2 linked regions of the Homo sapiens genome follow. The protein of the gene in region 1 interacts with the protein of each later gene in a pairwise test. Each region holds a gene or a part of one and is shown on either strand. Other genes may lie near its edges.

Region 1 (3,735 bases):
TATTGTTATAGTCATCGCCCAATGGTCAAGTTTCATCTTATACAAATAAAATGGAAGCTGCCCCATCCTATCTATTTAAGTAGTAGGTCACGTTAAAAAAAGTATGCTACTTGATATATTAACAGCCATTGACGATCCAAGGTTCTGAGATGCCCAGGAACTTCCCATCCACGAATGGGAGTTGGTTACTCACCTCCTTAACATCTTTTAGAAGTTCAAGGGCACAAGTGAAGTCAGGAGGAGTACTCAATAGCTGTTCTTTCAGATGGTTCCAAAAAGCATTGTACATTGCCTCCGCAAACCTGCCTTCTACACTATAAGAAGGGTTAAATGAGCAGATTGCTCTTTTACCTAGAAAATTGATACAGGATCATAATTTCCCAAACAGCATTTAAAATTATGAAAGACCATTAACTTGACAGGCTAGGAGGACCTATGTTTAGACTTGAGAAGGGCTGAATAAACTGAAGGTAGTCTCAGATGGAAAAGCATTGGCTAAATTCTCTCAGAAGGGTACCTCAAGGTTCCAGAGACACTCTCTTCCTGCAGCAGGAAGAACCATAAACTAGGAGTTGAGACTCTGACTTCTAACCCTAGTTCTGCACCTAGCCTGGATGTGTGACTTAGTTTCCACTGCCATAGACTTAAAACTTTGAACCAGATGCTATTTTTCCTTCAGGCCTGAAATCTAGGAAAGGATTTTACCTCTTGATAATACCTGAAGGTCTTCTGAGACACTTTAAATTCAGCAAGCCCAAAACTGAACTCCTTATCTTCCTTCTTTAAATTTGTTCCTCATGTATACTTAGTTCTGTAACCAGAAATCTGAGACTTTTTCTCTTTAAAAAAATATAATAGTAGGCCGGGCGCGGTGGCTCACGCCTGTAATCCCAGCATTTTGGGAGGTCGATGCGGGCGGATCACGAGGTCAGGAGTTTGAGACCATCCTGGCCAACATGGTGAAACCCCGTCTCTACTAAAAACACAACAATTAGCTGGGCGTGGTGGCGGGTGCCTATAGTCCCAGCTACTCCGGAGGTTGAGGCAGGAGAATTGCTTAAACCCGGGAAGCAGAGTTTGCAGTGAGCCGAAATAGTGCCACTGCACTCCAGCCTGGTGACAGAGCGAGACTCGGTCTCAAAAAAAAAAAAAAAAAAAAAAAAAAAAATATATATATATATATATATGTATATACACACACACACATATATACACACACGTGTGTATATATACGTGTATGTATATAATAGTAATGTATGTTTTCTGTTTACAAAAATACAAGTGATTAAAAAATATATGAAACAAAAATTCAAAGTTTCTCCTCCAACACAACAATCTAACCTGTGAAAGTTCAACTATTATCTATCTGGTGTGTACTGTAGTCCTTCTTAATTCCTTTCCCCTCATGTCCTTTATCCACTCAGTCACCCAATTCCAGAGATTTTGCTTCCTAAATATCTCTGGAATCGGCCCCCACCCACTGTCATCTCTTTCCTGAACTATTGCTATAGTCTATTAAATGGCCACCTTACACCCACAAAACCTTACCCCAACAATGGTACATATTTTTGATAAAAATCAATGAGTTTTCTAAGATACAAATCTGATCATAATAGTATACTCATTTAAAGTTCTTCAGACGCTACCTATCTCTAGCAGTGTACGTGGCCTTTAAGTCCCTTCACGATCCTATTCTGCCACTTCTCCTACCTTAACCTTCTTTCTCCTCCTACATCCTGTGCTCTAACAATCACAGTCCACTTATAATTAATATATAATTGTCTTCCATCCCTCTATGGCTCTGAAATGACATTTCCTCTTCCAGGAGAGTCCCTTCTCCCCTAAACCACCTGAAAAGACTCAATTCAAGTGTTACCTTATTAGGAAAGTCTTCGCTGACCTTCCCCAGGTAGCTGAGCACTGCATAGAACTCCACACACTAGATATGAGATAACTTATCACTCTGCACAGTAGCTATTTGACTATCTTCCCTACAGAAGCTTTTTGATGGCAAAGACAGTGACTCACTCAACTATATGTCTTCAGCTTTCAACATTCTGCCTTCCACCTAATAAGTACTCAATAAATGTTTGTTGAATAAATGTCTTATTATGAGATTTCCCCTAAAAACCGATAACTGTGCTTAGTATAATTTTATAAGTCCAAAGGGAAAACTGTCAATTATCTGTAGATAATGGATAACCCCAAACTCTATTTCAACCTCTTATCCAGTATACATTTTGTATTACTACATTTGAAAAAGCCTGTTAATTTAAAAAACACAGTGAAATCCAAGCCCTAAATAATATTATTCCTCCTGCTTCATCTATCCACCCCCTGAGATCCCTAGCCACTTTAACAGACCTTCATTCTCTTAGCTTCACTTTTTTCTGCACCCCTACCAGGAGAAAAACAAATCTAACTCGGGCCGCAGGGACTATAAAGGCAATGAGGGAGATGCTACGAGACCTGTGTTTTGGTAAAAACTTCCTTCAGGTAACCCATCCTTGGCAACAGACAAAGGAAAATCTAAGAAGTATGAAGATCAAGAGAACCACTGACAAAGCAAGGGGCTTTACGTAACAGAATCCCAAAAGTGGCAAAATAACAGAAGCATTTAAGGTGGGAAATTAGAAATACCGTAAAATATAGATTCTGACAAAGAAATCAACCCATTTAACTCTTAATAAACACTAGAAGCATTCAATCCATAAATGCTGGATGATTCTTAATCATATATTGTTATATCAATATAATTAAGAGAAACCAATATAAAGCCTAATTGTAGAAGCACACTATTTATCGATGGGGTTCTAATCTTGATTCACAGAATCTTTATTACACTGATTATGAAGCAGAAGTGTCCCCTGAAATTTCCTACTCCTGAAGAGTGAACAAAACCACTATTAGAAAATCTGCTCATCTCTGCCTGTTTAATCTGCAGATAATTAAAAGTTGAACGGCTAGGAGTTACCTCTTCCAAGTCTGTCTGAAAAGATCTGAAAATCACTCTACGTTTCATTATTAACTAAGATCCTGAAATGAACATTTTGACAATACAGAATGAATACCCCTTTTCCAAGATGTTTGGGACGGGAGTATTTTGGATTACGGATTATTATTGTTATTATTATTATTTGAGACAGGGTCTCACTCTGTCGCCCAGACTGGAGTGCAGTGGCGTGTTCGCGATCTCAGTTCACTGCAACCTCTGCTTCCCAGGCTCAAGGGATCCTCCCACCTCAGCCTCCTGAGTAGCTGGGACTACAGGCATGCACCACCATGCCCGGCTAATTTTTGTATTTTTTGCATAGACAAGGTTTCGCCATGTTGCCCAGGCTGGCCTTGACTTCCTGGACTCAAGCAATCCACCTGCCTCGGCCTCCCAAAGTGTTGGAACTTAACAGTCGTGAGACACTGCGCCTAGCCAGATTACGGATTTCTTGGATTTTGGAATATTTGCAGCATACTTGTATACCGCAATGAGCATTTCCTTTGAGCATCATGTTGGCGCTCAAAATGTTTTGGATTTTGGAGCATCGTGGATTTCCGATTTGGGATGTTCAACCTGTAACTGCATTGGTTTATTACCTGTTTAAATATAATTTGCTGCTTTGACACTTTTAAAGTAATACTTACACTAATTTGTCGGTACTATATAAGACACACTCAACCATTAAATTTATTAATAAGATGCTTCAAGTCTGACCAAAAGTCATTTGTGCTATGTACCTA
Region 2 (3,719 bases), on another chromosome or scaffold:
AGGGAAACATCATGAACAACTTTACACCAATTAGACAACCTACTTTACACAAAATAACTAAACCAGCTAGGTGTGTAGGAATATACCAAAATAGGCCAGGCACAGTGGCTCAGGTCTATAATCCCAGCACTTTGGGAAGCTGAGGCAGGTGGATCACCTGAGGTCAGGAGTTCAGGACCAGCCTGGCCAACATGGTGAAACCTCGTCTCTACTAAAAATACAAAAATTAGCTGGGTGTGGTGCGCTACTGTAATCCCAGCTACTTCGGAGGCTGAGGCACAAGAATCACTTGAACCTGGGAGGCCGAGGTTGCAGTGAGCCAAGAACACACCACTGCATTCCAGCCTGGGCAGCAGAGTGAGACTCCATCTCAAAAATATATATATTTATTTGTTTGTATGTATGTATGTATGTATGTATGTGTGTGTGTATTTTTTTTCCAAAATAAACACTTAAGGAAATGTCTTACTTTTTAAAAACCTTCCAAACTGTCCCTAGACCCATGTGAAACCCTAAGTCATTTAAAAGAGAGGACTACATGTCAGGTTAGGTCCCCCAAAACATCTTTAAGTGCCTATAATGTGTGCTACACACTGAGAATTCAAATTAAAGATACGGTTTTTTCTTACAGTTCTACAGTCTTCCTTTGGCTTAAAGACTCCTGGAAATACAGACATGAGTAAGAGACAACACTAGATTTATTAAAGATCATAATGCTATCATTTATTGAAGAAAGAAAGCAAAAAAAACTAACAATTGTGATGGGGGAGGAGAGACAGCTTGGCAACATTCCTTTTAAAGTTAAGTTAGCATAAAGAAAACAATATTTAGTAAATGAAATAGATTTTCAAGGTAGGAAAAGTAGTACTCAAGAATGTATTTTTGGATACAAAAATTCAGTTACACAATCAGTAGCATTCAAAATTAGTTATGAGTATTTATACAATTACAAAAATGGATTCATGTTTTAACAACGTATTTTAAAAGCTCAAACATTTTAAAACAGGCACAATATTCTAAAGGCATATGCATTCACCATGGGCTTTTGAATGTCCTCACTCCCAACTTCACAATCAAAATCTACAGAAGCGGCAAAAGATCAGAGTTCAGAGGGCTATTTTTTTTTTCCCTTTCCTTACTTAAGGTTGCAAACACATTGACAGAGGCAAAATAAACACGTTTCATAGCAGAAAGACCAAAAAATTGAATGTAAACCATAGCTCTCCCTTGGGAGATTACACAAATACAAGGTTCATCTGTACTTAGAACAAGGCTCATAACTTCTTGTAGCATGGACATTCAACAGGCACAGAGCAACAACATTCACCCAAATACCAGCTGCAATTTGTCCTTTAAGGATGCCTCACAAGGATATTATGTCCAGGTAGCTAGTCCATTTATATCGGGGACCAGTTGTCCTTTTGTTGTTTGTGGCTGTTTATTAAATGTAGTGGCACAACTTTGTTGTGAATATGTACCATCATTTGCTACAATCTAGACAGATCATCCTGTCTACAAAAAATCATTTTCTACATTTCTAAGACCATTATCAGTTTATCTGCTCCTGCTAGAAAAGGACATACTTTTTGTCAATTTACATTAACAAAGGCTCTGCTACTCCCCATTTACTCGCTGCAATGAAAACTGGTAAGCCAAGGGTAAAGCTTAAGTATCAGGGACTATGAATTTAGGGTAGAAGTGAAAATAACCAAAGTGGAACTAAATCCCCTATTCTTGAGTGCAACTGAGATCAAGTAAACTTCGCTGGACTTTCTTCTTAACTATAAAACTATTAACCAGAAGGTAAAGTCACACAATTTTACCTCCCAACAAACTTTTAAAATAAAAATTTCCAAAAAATTTAGATGTCTAGGTTTTGTTATATCTTACCAAGAGTTACACAGACATAAATTTGTATTTAACTTCAGTTAAACATCTATTCACTTTTTAAAAATGCTGTCTGCAAATAAACTACTGGACATCTTAAGCTTACTAAAAAAAACTTAAGATTTTTAAATTAAAAAAAAAAAACTAGGACAAAAATCTAGCAAATGGTTTCACGTACCTTTAAACACTGATTCTTAAAAATTTATATGCTGAAAATGAGGTTTGAGAATACGTATTTTAAACCATTTATAATCCTACCGTCGACTCTAGTCAGAAGTTATCTGAGCAAAGAGAAAATAAAGCCTGGCGTAGACAGTCCCATAGAAAATAGAATCCATAGCCACTGGGCTGCCCTTCAATTTCCCAATTCATTCCACTAAGTCTCATGATGCAAATCTGTCACTTTCATAGAGCTATCAAAAACAGAAGCCAAGCCAGATCCTCCACACTTTAAGATATGGTTCCTTATTATCTATTTTAACAGAAGTATCAAAAAGTGATTTTTTTTTTTATTTATTTTTGAGACAGAGTCTCACTCTGTTGCTCAGGCTGGAGTGCAGGGGTGCGATCTCGGCTCACTGAACTTCCACCTCCTGGGTTCAAGCAATTCTTGTGCCTCAGCCTCCCTCCCAAGTAGCTGGGATTATAGGCGCACACCAGCTAGCCTGGCTGATTTTTTTGCTGTTGTATTTTTTGTAGAGATGGGGTTTTGCCATGTTGGCCAGGCTGGTCTTGAACTCCTGACCTCAAGCGATCCACCCACCTCAGCCTCCCAAAGTGCTCAGATTACAGGTGTGAGCCACTGCACCCAGCCAAAAGGTAATTTTATTTGGAATGCATTTCATGATTTTATTTCTTGCTCCCTGAGCCTGCAGTGATTAGGGTGGAAGGGAAGTGGCACTCAGGCAGATAATTCACAAAGTCACCACACAAGGGTGATAGATGATCCACCACTGAGATAATCAACCCAGTGAAAATGCTACACTGGGGACCATGTTTTGCCCTTCCCAGACAAGACATCTTGAGCTAGGATCTGAGCTACGGCTATGCAGAGGAGCAGAACTGAAGGCTCCGTTTGAGCCCTTTCTGCAAAAGGGGATGCATTTCAGATAATGAGACAAGAGACGGGAGTGAGTTAGTACACAGCACGCCCAATACCCAACAAGCAGCCTCAGAGAGACTGGGAGAAGGGGGAGAGGGGACTGGAAGCCATCTCTTCTGTTCTGAAGGGCAGTGCTCCTCCCAAGACAGCACTCAGAGAGCCAACAGCCCAGGGCAGATCACGCCAGGACAGTGCTTCCATATGGCTGGCTGAGCACCATATTCCAATCTGCAAAAGAGTCACCTTATTGGTTCCCTTAACTTCCAAAATGCAGCAAGCCCTCCTTCACCCAGCAGTGAACGGAAGGGAAGGGAATGCAGGGCAGCAGGGAGACAGAGACCATCATTAACTACAGGTCTGAAACCCTAATTCTTTACTCACTCATCAGGTTGCTTTTAATCACTGCTGTTGCTTGGTAACAGGTTTCAGCAGATTTGAAATGGATTTCTTCCTCCCACAGTCTAACAAAAACAAGTAGGGAAACAACCAAAGAATAAGGCAACTTAAGGAAAAACGCAGGAAGACCCTGGGAGGCAGGGTCATGCAAAAGCTGCCAATGGTGTCCTGATGGGAGCTGTCTGAGCAAACTGGCCACAGGCCGTGAGTGAAAGCAAAGCAGAAGCCTTTCTACAAGACCCATCTCCTGCCAAGAACCCCTCCCTGACGCCTCCACTCGTGGGGTCTGGGATAGGCTCTTTACCTTCTCAGAGGATGGAGGCAATACCATTCA

The links. The genes of interacting proteins can lie anywhere in the genome.
Region 2: the proteins of TCP11X2 (region 1) and SFT2D2 interact in a two-hybrid assay, tested with the Homo sapiens proteins (one large-scale study listed by BioGRID).

What each region holds. Positions count from the first base shown.
Region 1 is NC_000023.11:102,465,256-102,468,990, forward strand, and holds part of TCP11X2 (T-complex protein 11-like X-linked protein 2), read right to left. Parts: intron 315-3,735; coding exon 194-314; intron 1-193.
Region 2 is NC_000001.11:168,250,004-168,253,722, reverse strand, and holds the end of SFT2D2 (vesicle transport protein SFT2B), read right to left. Parts: 3' UTR 702-3,719; downstream 1-701. UniProt on the Homo sapiens protein: May be involved in fusion of retrograde transport vesicles derived from an endocytic compartment with the Golgi complex.